Homo sapiens: one gene and its partners. The protein of the gene in region 3 purifies or fractionates together with the protein of the main gene of each other region. This does not show direct contact. Each region holds a gene or a part of one and is shown on either strand. Other genes may lie near its edges. The genes, in order: ANAPC13, NEK2 and ANAPC16.

Region 1 (7,640 bases), on a different chromosome or scaffold from region 3:
GGCCATGTTAGCTCCCTGAACCACATTTTTCTTCAAATAAAACATACAACTGGATGCTCTCCAGAAGCTTCTAGAGTTAGAGAATTCCACAGCTTTGATTTCTTTGCCACACTAGTTTATCTTCCATTGATATCCCTCCTCCACTAGTTACTGCCAGATCAATACCTTTAACCCATCCTCAGCTCAAATCATAACCTACCAGTGGTATTGCGACATCCTCATAAGGCAGCTTGTCTTCTCGCCAAGCATCATCAATCAAATCCAAGATCCTTCCATCTCTCTGAACCTCACTGTCCATTTTCCTGCAGCTTTGATCTTGTCAAATCTGTAAGCCAAAGAGGTTATTTCTTAAACACGAAGACTGAAGAGATGGTATAATCCACTATTAGGATTCTCCAGGCTTTTTAGTCTGGGGCCACCTTTTGGGAAAAGGTTCATTTTCTCATATGGGCCGGGTGACTACTTTGATCACAGTTCCTCTCTCCAACCCCAACTGATACATATTTTATAGTGTATACTGGACAGGCATAGCCCAGCTGACAGACCAGTGTCATAGAGTGTGACAGGAGAGCAACACGTTAAACGAGGCCCTCAAATATTAATATGTTGCATCTCAATGTAGCTCTTCTCTTCTAACTTGAACATTCACCTTTTCCTGTTTGTGATGCCTTTGATGAGTCCCTGATTCATAATGGCCAGCTAAGTTTCCTTTCTAGCCCCTGGCTCAAACCTCAGCATTCTTAGGCACAGGAGTCACACGAACATACTGTAAAGGAAACGGCTTCCTTCCCTAAAATAGTACCCAGGCTGAGATCTGAATAAAGCACTTCTAGGTGAACACCAGTGGTAGAACCTCATACTGCTAAAGTTTCTCCAGTTTCTGCTTCCCTTTGGGGTAGCTCCTTCCTCGGAGGTTCCTTCCTCTAATTCTTAACGCTACACTCCCTTCAATTTCTGGCCCAAATGGTCACGATGCTTATTTAGCTCCTTGACCATGGCTGATTCCCCATTTTTCTCTGAAACTGCTATAATCTAATCCAAAAGGCTGGCTAGCTTGTAGGATACTTCTGGATTTCCCTGTTTCCAAGGTTGGGCCCTGACTCATCATAGGCATCATCCTATGGGTGCTCCCTGCTACCAAGTGACAATCCAAAAAGCCCGGAAGCCACTGGCATCAAAGGTACTCTCAGTTTCTGAGACTATGGAGACTCACACAATAAGCAATTTTGGGGTGGTGGAGCGGGGTGGAACCCACCATCTGGAGGTGCTTTTTTCAGAGCTCAGCCTGGGTGATATTTTAAGGAAGGAAGCCATTTCCTTTACAAGCTCAACTTCAGACATCGTCTTGCCTTGAGGATTTGTGTCAGGTCTGTAGTTGGTCCCTTCGCATAGTCCAGTTTAGTGTTATCTCAGTATGTTCATGAGCTCCTGTGCCTAAGAACGCTGAGGTTTGGGCCAAGGCAGGTGGAAGTTTTTGTAAAAATGGCTCACAGGGCCGGGCGCGGTGGCTCGCGCCTGTAATCCAGCACTTTGGGAGACCGAGGTGGGCGGATCACGAGGTCAGGAGATCAACACCATCCTGGCTAACAGGGTGAAACCTCGTCTCTACTAAAAATACAAAAAATTAGCCGAGCATGGTGGCAGGCGCCTGTAGTCCCAGCTACTCGGGAGGCTGAGGCAGGAGAATGGCGTGAACCTGGGAGGCGGAGCTTGCAGTGAGCCGAGATAGCGCCACGCGCCACTGCACTCCAGCCTGGGCGACAGAGCAAGATTCCGTCTCGGAAAAAAAAAAACAAAAAAAACCAAAAAGGCTCACAGCTGTCCCCCATAGGATAACTGCAAGATATCCCTAACACCTTGGCAAAAATTATACACAGATTGGTGTGGGAAAGGGTTTACACCCCCATGACAAGGATCTCGGCAAAAGTTAAGCAAAATGCGCCCTGCTACTTCTGTCACCGGTGAGCCAGGTGAGGGCTTAATTAATCCAGTACTCAATAATTAACCGAGTACTACCCAGTGGATAACTCAAAGCAAGACGAAGTTTTGGTTATACTTTTGAAGTCCCTGTCTTACAAGTGCTCCCCACTTTCCTGCTGCTACTCCTTTGTCCTTGCTGCTCTGTCTCCTGGGATACCCTTCTCACTTTCCTCAGCTGATCCAAACCTGACTTTCGGAGGCCCACGTAGATTTTCCACCTTTGTAAAGTTTTCTCAAATCACTCGAGCTTCAGTAGGCCTTCTATCCTTGAACTCTTGCTTCTTGTCCTAACTTAATCTACTAAACAAGCTAGGTCAGCTTTGTGGTCAATTGCTCAGGTATTATTGCCTCCAACTGTTACGTGTACATTTTGTACCCATGATTCCTTAGTAGATCTTTCCACATTTGGTCTCAATCTTTTTCACCTGTCCCTTCTCCAAACACCTCCAACCCTGTCACATTTTCCAGCCTTGACAGTTAAAACCCCCTTTTCCACATCACTAATGCCACTCTTCCTTTCAAGATAAACGCAGGCGTCAGCTCTTGAAGGTCAACATCCCATTTCCGGGATTAGGCGCGAAGGTGCCTTCCCTCATAAGGGGCTGGAAGGATGGGAAGCATCAAGATAATCAATGCCCAGGGCACACTGATTATCTTGTGTATTAAAGCCACCGTCCCAAGTACTCGTCACCCAGTACGACCACTGTTTCCTGAACAAACTTTTCTTACTCACGTGACAGTCCCGATGCCTGCAATGCTCTTTGTTTCTTCCTTTTTATTCCAGTGAACCCACAGTCAGTCTAAAAATCTTAGGTCCCAGGTCGCTTCCTATAGGAGGCCGCCTCCAAACCCCAGGCTGAGTGCGGTCCCGGTACCCACCCCTCCAGGGGTCTCACAGTTCCCTAAGCACAGAGCATGGCACCAACTGGGGAGTCTGTCAAACAGCCCAGATGAATGTCTTTCCAAACACGCGGTGCCTGCGTTTCCAGGGACAGGGACACGTCTTATCAATTTCTATATATTACAGCTTTGTAAACATAATATTTATAAAATCAAAGCGGGAAAGCCTTGTTCCTTGCTAGAAATGAGCCTCGCAGGCCACCACCATCCGCACCGTACGACAGGCCGTCCCTCAGCTGCGGCTTCCTGCCTCAGGCAGGATGTACCAAACGTGGAAGCGGAGACGGGGAGGTCTGGGGGTGCCACGCAAGTCCCTTTCCTCCCGACACGAGTGCAGTAAAGAAAAACGGTTATGAGCGTAAAGTGACAGCCTCGGCCGATGGGAATAGGGGGAAGTCCGACACTGAGCAACGAACGCATTCCCGCGCCTCCAAAACCTAGGCCGGGGGCGCTGGAAACCCTTACCGGCACCCGGCCACCGCGGCAGACGCTTGCTCCTGCCACGCCCCCCCCCCCTCCCCCGCATCACGTGTCTGCACTCGCTTTCCTCGGATTCCCGGATGTGGGTGAGTTCATTTGCTCGCGTGCAGGGGAAGTCTGGAGAAGGCATTGTTTCAATTATTAAAAGTGTGGGGGCAGTGGGCGGAACAAACGCGCCGACTACAGAGGCTGGACGTAAGCTTAGCGGTGGCGCGCGTGCGCAGCGCCGGCCCGAGGTAACGGCGGGAAGGCTCAGGGGCGTGCTTGCGGCAACCCTGTAACCGCCGGTGCGCAAGTTGGAGGGGCAAGGGGCTGCCGTGTCCTGGTCTGGAGGCGGCCCAGGCTGCCTTGGTGATTCTGGCTTCGCGGCCTCATGGCTTGCGGCCGGTTTGCGCAACGGCCTGCGAACCACCAGGCGCGTCCCCGCCGGCTTGGGTCCGCCCCGAAGCCCAGTCCCTCGGCCTGGCCCGCTATGCCCTGCACACTGGCGGAGTCTGGCGTGGCGCAGCCCGGCGTGGGGTTCGGCCCCGCCAGGTGGTCAGCCCTTCCTCGGAGTCCAGGTGGCTGGGGGCGCTTCGGAGAGTGGCCAGGTGGGCGAGCGAGCTGCGCCCAGTACTCACCTTCCCCGGCGGACCCACCTTCCTTTTCAGCGGAGAGACCCCAGTGCGGCCTCCCTGCCAGGGCTGCTGTCTAGCTAGCGCTGTTGGGACTACTTCATTCACGGCACAAGGGGACCCGCTCATTTAGTGTGGCATGTTAAGGTTGGCAGCTTTTAAAATAGTGAGTTGGTTTAAACGGTTATGTTAGTACAAGAGGTACGGAAATGTGGCATAAATCGTGGACTGAAATTGGAGAACCCTGAACTAACGGCTCCATGCACACAAATGAGGGATAGAAAGAAATAAGGACGGTTTCTTAGGAACACTTTAATCATGGAGATACTTGAAGACAGTACATTTAGGCTTATAATGTGGTTTTTCTTACGTCCCTTACGACATCAGGAGAGTAAAGATGAGTATGATGTCAGAGACAGGTCGTCTTTTACAGTTTCAGCACCGTACGCTGATATGCACAGAGTAGTTTTCCCTGAGCCTTATGTCTGGTTAAACTTATTAAAAGAATTTATTATTTTAATAAAGCAGTATTGTAGGGTAGATGCCCTGTATTTATACAGTTCCTCAAGTGCTTGCATTTATTTTTTAGATACGAGGAAATCATAAGGATCGTTGATTAGATTTCTGTTAGCTGTAGCTTAATGATAAAGTGTATATATTTTCTTATTTGGCATGCAGTACCATTTTTAGATTGATTTTTATTTTGAGTTTGCTTTTTGACTGTGGCATTATCAGTGATCAGGGTAGTAAAAAGCTCTGAAACTAAATTAGAGTAGAGATTTATAAACAGGCACACTGCCTTTTAAAATGTATGTAGATGCAAATCTAAAAGTTGTTTGTAAAAATTGTGTATGTTGATTGTACTGATGCCATTTCCTCTCGTTAAAATGGTGGAAGACCTTTGCTTAGTCCTTTCTGTTCTAATTTATGTTGTGCTGGCAGATGGTGACAGCATCAGTAGTCCACTCTGTCATTGCTTCCTGCTTTCAAAAAATGTCAACTTGACTTGAAATTCAGCTAAAGCCAACATTGACAGAAGGTTTCAGGAACTGAATCTCCGATCTTTATGTTATTTTAGTCCGCCTCCCCGCCCCCATCAGGAGCTAGGTTTTTCAGTTTTACAGAGCCACAGTACTGTCATTACACATACACAAATTAATAAAAATTCTCTAATGTCAATATCCAGTCAGATAACGATTTCTTCAACTGTCTCTTAAATGTCTTTTTACAATTAGCTTGTTTGAACCAAAATCCCACAGGGATCTGCCTATTGTGTTTGGGTGATGCACATTTGACATCTTTTAATCTATATTTGTTCCCTCATAGTTATAGCTATGGGATTAGCCCCTATTTTTCCTTACAGTTCTAAATTTAGCAGATTGCATCGCACAGTATCCTTTAACATGTATCTCTGTTGCCTTTGTGTCCTCTAAACCAGGGGCCCCCAAACCCGGGGCCGCAGAGCAGTACCAGTCCGTGGCCTGTTAGGAACCAGGCTACAGAGCAGGAGGTGAGTGACAGGCTAGTGAGCATTACCTACCACCTGAGCTCTGCCTCCTGTCAGATCAGCCGTGAGGTTAGATTCTCCTAGGGGCACGAACCCTATTGTAAACTGCGCATGCAAGGAATCTAGGTTGCACACTTATAAGAATCTGACTAATGCCTGATGATCTGAGGTGGAATAGTTTCATCCTGAAACCATGCCCCTAACCCTGTCCATGTGTATTATTCATATTACTGAAGAAGTGGTTGGCCGGGCGCGGTGACTCACGCCTGTAATCCCAGCACTTTGGGAGGCCGAGGTGGGCATGAGGTCAGGAGTTTGAGACCAGTGTGGCCAACATAGTGAAACCCCGTCTCTACTGAAAATGCAATAAAATTAGCCGAGTGTGGTGGTGTGCGCCTGTAATCCCAGCTACTCGGGAGGCTGAGGCAGGAGAATCACGTGAATCCGGGAGGCGGAGGTTGCAGTGAGCCGAGATCACACCATTGCTCTCCAGACCAGGCAAGAGTGCAAGACTCGGTCTCAAAAAACAAAAAAAAGTGGTTTGGCCATTCCTCCCCCAAAACATTTCATATGAATTTTAACAAAAAGATATTTACAAAATGTGTTATTTCCGCCCTGTCGGTGTTGAGAAATTGTCTTCCATGAAACAGGTCCCTGGTGCCAAAAAGGTTGGGGACCACTGCTCTAAACCAGTAGTTAGATGTAGAATTGCACTGTCCGGTATTGTAGCCACCAGCCAGCAGTGGCTAGTTAATTAAAGTGAAATAAAATTAAAAATTCAGTTCCTAGGCTGGGCGCGGTGGCTCACGCCTGTAATCCCAGCACTTTGGGAGGCTGAGGTGGGTGGATCACGAGGTCAGGAGTTCGAGACCAGCCTGACCAACATGGTGAAACCCCGTCTCTACTAAAAATGAAAAATTAGCCGGGCGTGGTGGCATGCGCCTGTAATCTCAGCTACTAAGGAAGCTGAGGCAGGAGAAGGAGAATCGCTTGAACCCGGGAGGTGGAGGTTGCAGTGAGCCGAGATCACGCCACTGCACTCCAGCCTGGGTGACGGAGCGAGACTGTCTCAAAAAAAAAAAAAAAAAAAAAATTCAGTTCCTAACTTGCATTAGCCACATTTCAAGTGCTCGGTAGCTACAGATTGCCTGGTGGCTGCTTTTTGAACAGTGCAGTTATAAAATATTTTCATAATTGCAGAAAGTTGTATTGAACAGCACTGCTCTAGAAGCCTGATGAGATTTCACCCTTATATTTGTTTTTGTTTTGTTTTTTGGTGGGATAGTTGGGGGGGTTGGACAGATAATTTCATAGGTAATGCAGTATACTTCCTATTTCATTAATTATCAGGGAAGCAGTGTCTGAGTTGTTTTCTTTTTTTATGATGTTAACATTAAACATTATATTGGGTTTAGGTGTAGTTAGCTCCATCCACCCATAGTGAAATTCCCCAAGACTCTTTCACTTAGTGGTGAAGTCCTTTTGTGGGGTTATATTGCCTGTATCCGTTATTGCATTAGAGGTTGCAACGTGGTGATTATCTAATTCTATTATTTCTTCAATATTTATCAACTGAGAGTCTTTTATGAAGAACTTTCCCTTTCCAGCTGTTTGACTACCCTGAAATACAATTTGTACAGGAAAGGCAAGAAAAATGCTTAATTCTTTGCCTCTATTTTCAGACCACAGTAATGAGTTGGTGGCCTAGCAGCCTCCAAAGGTAACCATGAGGGTTTTTGCCTTTTTGTAAACCTATAATCATGAACTTATAGACTTTATATTTAAACTGTTTCAACATATGGCAGTTGTGTTTTTAATACTCAAATTGTTTCATCTTTGGCCAGTGGGAGCTCCTTAAAGTTGGCTCCTATTCCATTTGATATGACCAATAGCTTTGGTAATTTCCTTGCTTTCTGGTAAATAATTTTCCTGGCTCATTTATAGATTTCTGGTCTTCAAGGAGCCGTGGTTCTTTTGAGTCTGAGATAGTATTTGGAGACCACAGTCTTACCTAGGTGGGAGAGGTGTTCTTGCTACTAGGTTAGTCGTTAGTTCTAGGATTTATGGTGGCCAGAGTTAGGAAATATTATATATTAAAAAAAACACAAATATGCAAAATTCGCATTGTTTCCAACATTTAACATTTAAATTTCCAAAAT
Region 2 (4,012 bases), on a different chromosome or scaffold from region 3:
TTCGACAGTCAAATCCCTAACCAAGAACAGTTTGGTTAATGAGTTTTGTAACACTGGAGGAACCTCAGTATCAGCAAGTGTCTTTGGTTCACAAGGTCGTTCAGCTTGTCGAATTTTATTCTCTGACAAAGGGCATTTTTTTAAGGCAAGCGTGGCACTATTCATGAAGGAGCAGAATTTGTACATAACTGAATAATTTGGCAGGAGAGATTTCTTGTACTTTTCACCTGAAAAGTCGCTTTTATGATCTTCAAAACACTAAACATTGAGGAAAGATATTCCCCACCTAGTCTACTGAGACTCACATATTAACCTCCTCTGGAAACACCCTCACAGACACATCTAAAATAATGCTTTACCAGATTTCTAGGGATTCCTTAATCCAGTCAAGTTGACACATAAATCAACAAGTTCACCCCTTATCAACTCGATATCCATCCACATCTCTTAAACCATACTTAATTTCCAAATGAAGACAATAACAAGGTAATAGTTCTGCCTAACATGATGCAATTATCCTGTATACAGCTGAAACGGCACTAATCCCTAACCTCAAATTCGGCTTTCAGGATTTTAACATCTGGGATTTTAATCTTTCAGGATTGTGATTTTGGAAGTTCACACATTAGGGATTCTGATCTTTTGGGATTTAAGACATTAGGGATTTTGGTCTTTCAGGATTTTCGCATTTGAGATTGTATCATTCAGGATTATGATCCAAACCCATGGACATTTTGTTGTCAGCAGCTGTCCTGTGCATTGTAAAATGTTTACAGTGTCCCTGGCCTGTACCCACTAGCAGCCAGTAGCACCCTACCCCAAATCATGACAATCAAAAATGCCCCCAGACATTGCCAAACGTCTCTTGAGGAGCAAAATCACCCTGTTAAGGACCACTGGCTTACATACATGGATTAATGAGATGGGAGGTAAAGCGCCATACAGTTTAGGACTGGAATGCCACTCCCTTGAGCATCAGATCCATGTTTCCTTCTGTACCCTACAATGAAGACCTACAAATCATAAACACAACTCCCATCAACTAAGAGACCAACAAATGCAAGACACATAACTACAGGGAAACTGAAGAATTCTTTTATTTAGTGGGAAAGAAGTAGGTAAATGACAGACAGCTCATATTCTGTTAAACAGAAAAAAAAAAAGAATACAAACATCACAGTGATGAATTTTCACAAAGCTAACAGATTTGAACTACAGAGCAATGGAATATTTATAAGCAAGATGTCATGGTATTAATGACCAAATTGCATCTAACTGGGTTTTCTAAGCTCAAAAACATTTAAAATCTCAGACTTAAAATTTAAATCTAGACATGACAATTGTAAGCATACCACTCAGTCATTTAAAACTATTCAGTGAGTGCTACTCTTCCTGCATAAATATTTTTTTCCTAACATTATTTTTTCTCCCAAGATTTAGAATGTCACATCTCATGTTCCTACTAGTAATCACACACAGGATTAAAAGCCCAACCAAGAAAGTATTCTTTTTATAATATGTTCTTAAAAGAAGAAAGAAAAATTAAATGTGAACATTTTGTACAATAGTTGCTGAAGAACAGTAAAACCAATTCCGAAATATCATGTGTACTATACAGAAAGGCATGGCTCATGGAACCAAGTATTCAACACTACAGCATTTGAATATCAGTCTTTAAAGGTTGGTAATATTACATCCTGTACACAGCTCTGTGTCTCTCTACCTGGCTAGCGCATGCCCAGGATCTGTCTGCTTTTCAGTTGGTAATTTTTCTCAATATCTGACAGGGCTTGAGCCCGCAGCTGGGCAGCGTGAAGCCTTTTCTTCAGGTCCTTGCACTTGGACTTAGATGTGAGCTGACTCTCAGAATTCTCACTCCTCATGATGTTCTCTTTACTTTCCCCACTGAAATGAACTTTCTTCTTAATTACTGAGGATGGAAGATTAAGAAGTTCTTTAGAAGGAAAAAGAAAAAGGGCTCTGAGTTACTTGAACAGAGTTCAACTCCTTCATACTTATACTTATCAAAAAGTATTTGCTCTTATGGCTCACATTTGAAATCTAGGTGCCTGTTTTATTTTCTCTGGGATAGGAGGTTAGGGGTGTAGGACTTGCAGAAATCAGCCTTTTAATCCACAGCATTGAAAAAATAATATTGGAATGTGCCAAAATTCAAGGAACATAAGTTTTATTCTCTTAACAACCAACAATCAATTTTACTCTTAAACACACTGAGTATTATGGACAACATAAAACTTTTGGAAATCAATGTTATTTATCTCTGTCCTTGAAAATAAGTGCCATTCTATGCAGAACACCTTACCTACAGAAAAGTGTAGAAGCAGAGGTTTTTTTCTGTCTTTGTTTTTTTTTTTTTTTTTAAATAGAGAACACCTACAGTTTTGGTTAAATGTTCAAGAACACTTAGTTCAAAGCATCTTAATGGACGAGAAATCTGTTTCCAAAAAATCTAAACAAATTCAGTGTGGAAAAGGTAAATCAAGTAAGAGTAGTAAAAACTGTAAACTATTCTTTACATGGAAAAAATAAATAATAATCATATTTACTTAAAGTGGCAACACTATTAACTGCTGACAGAATTACTGGGGGCTGGAGGCTTACAGATTCTAGAATCCTTTTATTTTTTGTGTTAAAGGAAATATGTTCGAATATTTACTGAGCTCATAGGATGGGCCACTGTGAACCAAACAAAGGCCCTATTCTAGTAGGAGGAGATAAACCAAACACAAACAAACAAGTACTGGTGGGGAATATTTGATGGTAATACGTGCTATTAGGAAAAATAGCTCTGGAAACAGGGACATGCTGGGTGCTGGGTGCTGGGTGTAATGATACAAAGCCTCATACAGCATTTCTGAAGTAAGAAGCCACAGGGCTGTCTGGATGAAGAGTGCTCCAGGCAGAAGAAATAGGAAAGGCTGGCACACAGATGCACTGCCTTCCAAGGGTCCTGTGACTTCCCGCTTCATACGTCGCTTCTGCTTCAAAGCAAACTGGATTGCTTTTAGACCTTATCTCCACTGTTTCAACTCTATCCACCTTCTTATTACCACAAATACCTTTACATTTGTAAGTCAACATTGTCTTACTAATGGGATAGTTTTATTTTGTTTTTGTTTTTGTCTGAGATGGGGTCTTGCCATGTTTTCCAGGCTGGAGTGCAGTGGCTAGTCACAGGTGCAGCTGTAGTGCACTACAGCCTTGGACGCCTCGGCTTAAGTGATCTTCCTGCCTGAGCCCCAGAGTAGCTGGGACTATAGGTGCGTCACCACACTTGGCTCTTAATGGGACAGTTTTATAAGAAAGAAAGTGTTTTAAAAACATTTTTAAAATTCTTCCATTAAATAGAAGAATGAATATTTCATCAAATACGAAAAGAACAGCTTTTAAAAAAGACACTGCTGCTTGCTGTGATGATTTCAATATACTTGTGATGGCTTCCTCACGTGTGGATTTTATAGCCCAAGGATGGGGAGAGAATATTTCCAACTGTCCTGAGTTCAGAATGGTACCCGCTCCCCACTGCTATGATGCTTATCTTATAGCTCTGATGTGTTCACTACTTTCAGCACTCAATACCCTAAAATGTCTGCTTGCCCCAGTGGATACTTGATTCCTATGGCTCATTTTAAATATTTGCCATGATTCACATATAAGTAGATTCCCATACTTATCTGTGTATCCTATAAAGTAAAACACATCATCCTTACTTAGCTATTTTCATCTTTTGCTCAAAGACTATCAGGGCAAATGTAAATAAACTCTTTAACCGAACAGCCATCCCCAACAGGGTCTTAAGTAATTCTCTGCAATGGGTTTGATGCATGAAATTCATCCAGGTAAAATTTTCTCCTCATTTTATCACCCTAATCATGATTTAAGTCTATTTTGTCTTTATGGATGACAGTGTGGAATCTATGAAAAGCCAGAATAAATATTTTTATAATATTGAAATGGTAGACTGCAATATTGGGAAAAAAGAAGGTATTTT
Region 3 (7,662 bases):
AGTCCCCCACTGGCTTTGCACTTGCTGCGCACCAGAGGTGACCATCCAGGCAGTATCAACCTGAAGAGGGGGTGAATCCCAGCAGCTGCTCGATGGGCTTAAACCGCCACTCGTCAGCCTCCAGCTCTTCTACCAAACCAGCTAGTTTTTCCATCCGAGCAACTTGCTGATCTGTAAGGAGTCAAGGAAAGAATATTATGCAACAACGTATTACCCAAGAGACTGCCACCAGCCACCAAGATGATGACTGGTATAAAAATAATTTCTAGGCCGGGTGTGGTGGATCACGCCTATAATCCCAGCACTTTGGGAGGCCGAGGCGGGCGGATCACGAGGTCAAGAGATCGAGACCATCCTGGCCAATATGGTGAAACCCCATCTCTATAAAAATACAAAAAAAATTAGCTGGACGTGGTGGCATGCGCCTGTAGTCCCAGCTACTCGGGAGGCTGAGGCAGGAGAATCGCTTGAACCCTGGAGGCAGAGGTTGCAGTGAGCCGAGATCGTGCCACTGCATTCCAGCCTGGTGACAGAGTGAGAATCCGTCTCAAAAAAAAAAAATTTCTAGATGGATTTTTTTTTCTCCTCAAGATTCTCTCTCTTTTTTTGGGGGGTGGGGTGGGGGTGGGGAATGGAGTCTTGCTTTGTTGCCCAGGCTGCAGTGCAATGGCGCGATCTCGGCTCACTGAAACCTCTGCCTCGTGGGTTCAAGTGATTCTCCCGCCTCAGCCTCCTGAGTAGCTGGGACTACAGGCACCCGCCATCGTGCCCAGCTAAGTTTTTTATTTTTGTAGAGATGGGGTTTCACCATGTTGGCCAGGCTAGTCTCGAACTCCTGACCTCAGGTGATCTGCCTGCCTCAGCCTCCCAAAGTGCTGGGATTACAGACGTGAGCCACTGTGCCCGACCCTCAAAATTCTCATAATGGGGTCTTATTCTATGCTGGTCAGAAGCTTAATTTTTTTTTTTTTTTTTTTTTTTTTTTGAGACAGAGTTTCACCCTTATTGCCCAGGCTGGAGTGCAATGGTGTGATCTCAGCTCACTGCAACCTCTGTCTCCTGGGTCCAAGCGATTCTGCTGCCTCAGCCTCCCGAGTAGCTGGAATTACAGGCATATGCCACCATGCCTGGCTAATTTTGTATTTTTAGTAGAGATGGGGTTTCTCCATGTTGGTCAGGCCAGTCTCGAACTCCCGACCTCAGGTGATCCGCCCGTGTCAGCCTCCCAAATTGTTGGGATTATAGGCATGAGCCACCGTGCCCGGCCTATTTTTTTTTTTTTAAGTTGGAAGTTTCTTCTAATGTTAAAAGAAGAAAGGCTGGGCGCAGTGGCTCATGCCTGTAATCCAAGCACTTTGGGATGCCAAGGCAGGCGGATCACAAGGTCAAGAGATCAAGACCATCCTGGCCAACATGGTGAAACCCCATCTCTACTAAAAATACAAAAATTAGCTGGGCGTGGTGGCGTGCACCTGTAGTCCCAGCTATTTGTGAGGCTGAGGAAGGAGAATCACTTGAACCCAGGAGGCAAAGGTTGCAGTGAGCCGCGATCATGCCATTGCACTCCAGCCCGGGTGACAGTGAGAGACTCCGTCTCAAAAAATAAAAGTCATTTTAAAATAAAATGATCACATTTTCAGGATGTGCCCTATTTTTTTCCAGAGACAGGGTCTCACTCTGTCACCAAGGCTGGAGTATGCCTCCTGGGCTGAAGCGATCGTCCCAACTCAGCCTCCCACGTAGCTGGGACCACAGGCATGCACCACCATTCTCCACTAATTTTTGTATTTTCTTTTTTTAGATATGGGGTTTCACCATGTTGCCCAGGTCAGTCTTGAACTCCTGGGCTCAAGCAGTCTTCCTGCTTCAGCCTCCCAACGTGCTGGGATTAGAGGCATGAGCTACTGCACCCGGCCTGGATGTGCTCTGTTCCTAAAAAAAGTACTCATCCTCTATGCCATAGTGATTTGTGGACTAAAATCCTAGGGTTAGAGGCAATTACAGCTTTTCCCCCTACATAAAGTTTCAATGGAGAAATGGTCTGGAGGGGGAACACAGTTTGTTGATGCAGAAATGAAGGCCTGGTGAGGCCTAATGTAACAGAAAAAGTGTTATCAGGATGTTAGAGTATAGACAGACCAGGAGGTATCGTACAAATACTTGAAGATGATGATGGTAACCAGTGGAGGACAACAGTAAAAGGAGGTTTCAGACAGGAGAGGAAAAAGTAACACAAGAGGAGCAGGAAGCACTGACTCCCTGGAGGACCAACTTTTTTTGTTTTTCAGACAGGGTCTCTGTTGCACAGGCTAGAGTGCAGTGCTGTGATTCCGGCTCATTGCAGCCTCAACCTCCCGGGCTCAAGTGATCTTCCCACCTCAGCCTCCCAAGTAGCTGGGACTACAGGTATGCGCCACCATGCCTGACTAATTTTTTCTTTGTAGAGATGCAGTTTCACCATGTTGGCCAGGCTGGTCTCAAACTCCTGACCTCAAGTGATCCACCCGCCTCAGCCTCCCAAAGTGCTGGGATTACAAACGTGAGCCACTGCACTCGGCCCCAACCTTAAGCCTCAATGTGGACATTATGACTAGATTAAGACCTAGAATGTTCTTTAATTTAGGAAGTCCACTAAAATAGCCTTGCTGAGTTTGGGGATTTTTGTCACAGCCTCATCCACCCCCTAGCAAATTTATTCTCACAGTCAAGTACGCAACACTCATGTGCTTACCATGTTTCACCTGTTTAAGCGTGGATGCCACTTGATAGCTAAAAACAGATTCGCAGAGGAATCTCTCAGAGCCATCTACAAACAAAAGGAGAAAAGGTTTTAATCTGCTCTAAAGGTTTTATGGCTTCTGATAAACCAAGTAAACTTGTCTATTCTTTTCCCTGCTTGTACATTCAGGGTCTAGTTCTCAGTGTTTACAAAGACGGGTTCTGCTTCATTTAGAACTAAGACTGTTATAAAAGCTATTTATTCTATACCTAGAATATTAAAATAGTCCCTCTACTTAAGAGTTTAAAAATAGTGTTTAAAAAAACAAAAACAAGAAACCTCCGTCTGATGTCCTGGTCAACACTTCCCTCCTCCCAACCTGAGAGTTCCTTAATGTTCTCCTGTATGTCAAGCAAACACTGGCAGCTGACACATTTGGCCTTGTGGCTGGCTCCTGTAGTGTCAAAATATAAAGGTTCACCAAAACTCCAAATCATTTTCAGTCTAAAAAACAAAGCTGAGGAAAAAATTGTTGATTTTTAATATATCAAATTACATCACTCTGACAATCACAGAACACTGCTGGGAAATTTCATTCTGTGAACGCAAACTGTAACCTTGATTTTCCAACTGAACCAAAACACTGCAATTTGGATGACGATAAGAGTATGGTGCAAGTTCAGAACCTAGAATTGTACTGGTGCCAAGAACTGCCAACAAGAAGTGGCCAACTCAGTTGCCACAGCACTTGGAAGATGATCATGAAACATAAGCTAGTTCATGTTATTCCTTGTCAGGCAAGGGCTGATACAGCAAAACATATTCTCAAAAATTTACAGCTCACGTAGAAACATTTGATTTTTAAAAAGGTAGCAGAAACCATTTGGGGGATGTACCTTATTGCGAAAATCCTAAAACAAACGGGGAGAGAGGACACAGCTGTCCTTTTTCAGGCAGTACTTCACGTTAGCACTACTAGGCCTCAAGCATTCACCCATCAATCATGGGTTGTTGTGTTGGCCAGGTATTACATGGCAAGCAGACAGGACTAACACATTCTGGCCTCATGCTGAGTTTCACACAAAGGAAACCTTATTTCAGAAGTCACAATAACCAATTAAAAAAAAAAACAACTATAGATACTGTATCCAAAGAGCTTGAATATATAACCAAGAGGGCATCCTTCCAATATCATCTTCAAAGTGATCAAAAAAAAAAAAAAAAGAGAAAAAGAAAAAAATGAAAGTATAATTATTGGGATGTATACTTTTTGTATTCTTCAGAGACAGTGTTACATTCTGTAAATTCAAACTCAGTCTCAAAAAAAAAAGGGGTTTGAATGTCAGCAGTCATTATCCTATTCATATTCTTGCTTAAAAAGTCCAATTATAACTCATATTTTATTTTAGAAAGAGGAAAGCATAGACAATTAGAGTTTACCTCCCAGATGGTTTGATCCTGAACTTTAGGATTACACACAAGGCAGTGGGAATTATAGGCTATAAGGATCAGGCCAAGATGTATATGGAAGCTCCTGAAAGTGCCACCTCTCACTTGCATTTAATCACAGGCACCATTAGGATAAAATAGTTAAGTTGTGATATTTGCATATTTTCCTTGGTAATGAACTTCAAAGCAAAAGGATATAAGCTAAACTTTCAAAAAGGAACCTCTGCATTTCACTCCACCACACTATATGCCTGTGGAACACACTTTTGCTGATTTGCAGCTCCCTATTAACGTCCAAGTCCAATTGCTTCTTAGCCACATCCTATTAGATGTGGTATCAGTACCAGTCTAAAGCCTGGAATTGCTCCAGAACGGAGTCAGCTGGGGGCAATCTCTTCCATTTAGAAACTGTAATCAAACCCTTTGTAACACAGCAGGTAGCAATACATCAGCTTTCCTTGTCAGGGACAAGCACAGGTCATAAACAGGGAAAAGTTTAGTAAATTACCCAAATCTAACACCATAGCCAACTCCAATAAATAAGGATGGTAACAAATACATTAAAAAGAATATTACCTCACAGTAGGCAATTAGACAATGCCAGATAATTTATACTTCAGTGGCTACAATGTCTCTAAAATACAGCCACTGATGGGCTGGAAGGCAGTTTCTAATGTGCTCAGTAATAACTGGGTGAGGACAATTTTGGCCAAGGGCAGGAGAATGCTGCAAACTGCTGTATGCTGCTTATGTGAGGTGTCTGTTATCAGAGAGCAGAGGCACAAAAAAGTTAATTCACAAGGTTAACTACAGGTGATTTGGGTTTACTATCCTAGACTCACAAGGATGTAACATCAAGTTGAACCTTTTGAGATTAAAAACAGCATCCATCCTTGATTCCTAACTGCTTTTGTTCCTTACTCTTGACAGGCAACCCTTCCTGCTCTATTTTCATATCCTTTTTTTTTTTTTTTAAACCAAGTCTCGCTCTGTCGCCCAGGCTGGGGGGCAGTGGCATGATCTCGGCTCACTGCAACCTCCGCCTCCTGGGTTCAAGCAATTCTCTCAGCCTCCTGAGTAGCTGGGACTATAGGCACACACCACGATGCCTTTTTTTTTTTTTTTTTGTATTTTTAGTAGAGGTGGGGTTTCACCATATTGGTCAGGCTGGTCTCGAACTCCTGACCTCAGGTGATCCGCCCACCTCGGCCTCCCAAAGTGCTGGGATTACAGGCGTGAGGCACCGTGCCCGGCCTCTATTTTCATATTCTATTAAACTATTATTGGTCAGGTACATGTGTGTTAGATTTATTGTATAATAGAATAGTATCACCTATAAACATGGTAGAAAATGCTTCCAAATCCAACATCCTTACATTTCAGAGTACTCTTCTCAATTTAATATTCTTGATTTGACCAAGAATATTAAATGGGTTTAGGGGTTGCCATCTCTACATTATTTTTCAGTCTTTAAGTGTAATACTCTTTATATTCTTAAGATTTTAGATTTTTAAAGATTATCTTAATCTTTTTAAGATTTAAGATTATTGGTAAAACTTGAAATGTAAGAAACACAATCAAAACTGTGCACTGTGTATTTATACTTAATATAAATGTATCCTACAACAGAAACACAACACATTTCTCCATGAAGCATATTGAGATGGAATAAAAATGGATAGATCTATAACTCGTTAGAACATCAACATTCAGACTAATCTCAGAAGCCTTTCTTCTTCAATATCTCCACATAATTTGATGTATACTGACAAAGAATGCTGATAGCTTTGAGACTGTGGAGGTACCTCCTGTATTAAATTCCTCTTATAGCTAGAATTTAAATGACTTTAATCTTAGAGCTCCATTGTTGAATATGGATTCTTCTGCTGCTATAAAACTCATTAAGCAATTTAAGTGTCTCCCATTTTTGATTTGTTTTGTGGGAAACTTCCTTAATACTAGGTCTTTGCTGCATATAAATGAAGTCATAATATAGTTTTAGCACCAAATATGGTAACAGGGCCCCAATTGTTCACTACTTCTAACCAGACTCAGTGATACTAACTTGAGTATTTAGTTAACACAATTAAAGAAAATAAAAAGGCAAAGAGAGAAGTACATGTATCACTAATTACATATGCTACCTGGTCATCTACCTCACCACTAGTCATAACCCAAACCAATCCTAGGGAGCTCTATGGTCCCAGAGTCCCCCCGTGGTTTCCTGTCACAAATGATTTTGGGCTTAACCCGTAACTCTTTTTATTATTTCTGATTATTCATCACCCCCAAGGCCAACTATAGTTTGTATCTTTTCTTTTCTTTTTTTTTTTTTGAGACAAGGTCTCCATCACCCAGGCTCGAATGCAGTGATGCGATCACAGCTCACTGCAGCCTCCACCTCCCAGGCTCAGGTGAACCTCCCACCTCACCTTCCTAAGTAGCTGGGACTACAGCCACGTGCCACCACACCCAGCTAATTTTCTATTTTTTCTAGAGACAGGATTTCGTCATGTTGCCCAGGCTGGTCTCAAACTCCTGGGTTCAAGCAATCTGCCTGCCTCAGCCTCCCAAAGTGCTGGGATTACAGGTGTGAGTCACTATGCCTGGCCTATAGTTTGTATCTTTCTCACAGATATTCCTAGATTAGTTTTAAAATATAGTTGTGTAAATTTGAAATATTAAGGCCAGGTGCGGTGGTTCATGCCTGTAATCATAGCACTTTGGGAGGCTGAGGTGGGCAGATCATTTGAGGTCAGGAGTTCAAGCTCAGCCTGGGCAACATGGCGAAACCCTGCCTCTATTAAAAATATTAAAAAAATTAGCCAGGTGTGGTGGTGGGCACCTGTAATCCCAGCTGCTTGGGAGGCTGGGGCAGGAGAATCACTTGAACCCGGGAGGCAGAGGTTGTAGTGAGCCAAGATCGAGCCACTGCACTACAGCCTGGGCAACAGAGCGAGACTCTGTCTCAAAAAAAAAAAAAAATTGCAACACTTAAAGGAAAAAAGATCAATATATAATTAAGCACTAAAATACTAGAATCAAGTAAATTTTGAATCCTTAATAGGTTATTCCCCAAAGCTTTTTTTTTGCTTTTTTTTTTTGAGACAGAGTCTTGCTCTGTCACCAGCCTGGAGTACAGTGGCATGATATCTGCTCACCGCAACCTCTGCCTCCCAGATTCAAGTGATTCTCCTGCCTCAGCCTCCTGAGTAGCTGGACTACAGGCATGCGCCACCACATCCAGCTAATTTTTTTGTATTTTTAGTAGAGACGGGGTTTCACCATGTTAGCCAAGATGGTCTCAATCTCCTGACCTTGTGATCTGCCTGCCTTGGCCTCCAGAAGTGCTGGGATTACAGGCGTGAGTTACTGCGCCTGGCCTCCCAGTGCTTTTTAAAAATTTATTATTACTATTTTTTGAGACAGAGTCTCATTCTGTCACCCAGGCTGGAGTGCCATGGCATGATCATGGCTCAATGCAACCTTGAACT

Evidence for each region.
Region 1: the proteins of ANAPC16 (region 3) and ANAPC13 purify together in Homo sapiens (affinity purification with mass spectrometry; 4 studies listed by BioGRID and IntAct, with this or other methods). This does not show direct contact.
Region 2: the proteins of ANAPC16 (region 3) and NEK2 purify together in Homo sapiens (affinity purification with mass spectrometry; 2 studies listed by BioGRID and IntAct, with this or other methods). This does not show direct contact.

Annotation. Positions count from the first base shown.
Region 1 is NC_000003.12:134,482,607-134,490,246, forward strand, and holds the start of ANAPC13 (anaphase-promoting complex subunit 13), read right to left. Parts: upstream 3,380-7,640; 5' UTR 3,346-3,379; exon of another isoform or gene 2,714-3,345; intron 326-2,713; 5' UTR 299-325; coding exon 200-298; intron 1-199. Other genes in the region: CEP63 (centrosomal protein of 63 kDa), read left to right, coding at 4,114-4,121. UniProt on the Homo sapiens protein: Component of the anaphase promoting complex/cyclosome (APC/C), a cell cycle-regulated E3 ubiquitin ligase that controls progression through mitosis and the G1 phase of the cell cycle.
Region 2 is NC_000001.11:211,661,699-211,665,710, forward strand, and holds the end of NEK2 (serine/threonine-protein kinase Nek2), read right to left. Parts: intron 1,955-4,012; coding exon 1,728-1,954; 3' UTR 1,074-1,727; downstream 1-1,073. UniProt on the Homo sapiens protein: Protein kinase which is involved in the control of centrosome separation and bipolar spindle formation in mitotic cells and chromatin condensation in meiotic cells.
Region 3 is NC_000010.11:72,225,510-72,233,171, reverse strand, and holds part of ANAPC16 (anaphase-promoting complex subunit 16), read right to left. Parts: intron 2,807-7,662; coding exon 2,732-2,806; intron 172-2,731; coding exon 56-171; 3' UTR 1-55. UniProt on the Homo sapiens protein: Component of the anaphase promoting complex/cyclosome (APC/C), a cell cycle-regulated E3 ubiquitin ligase that controls progression through mitosis and the G1 phase of the cell cycle.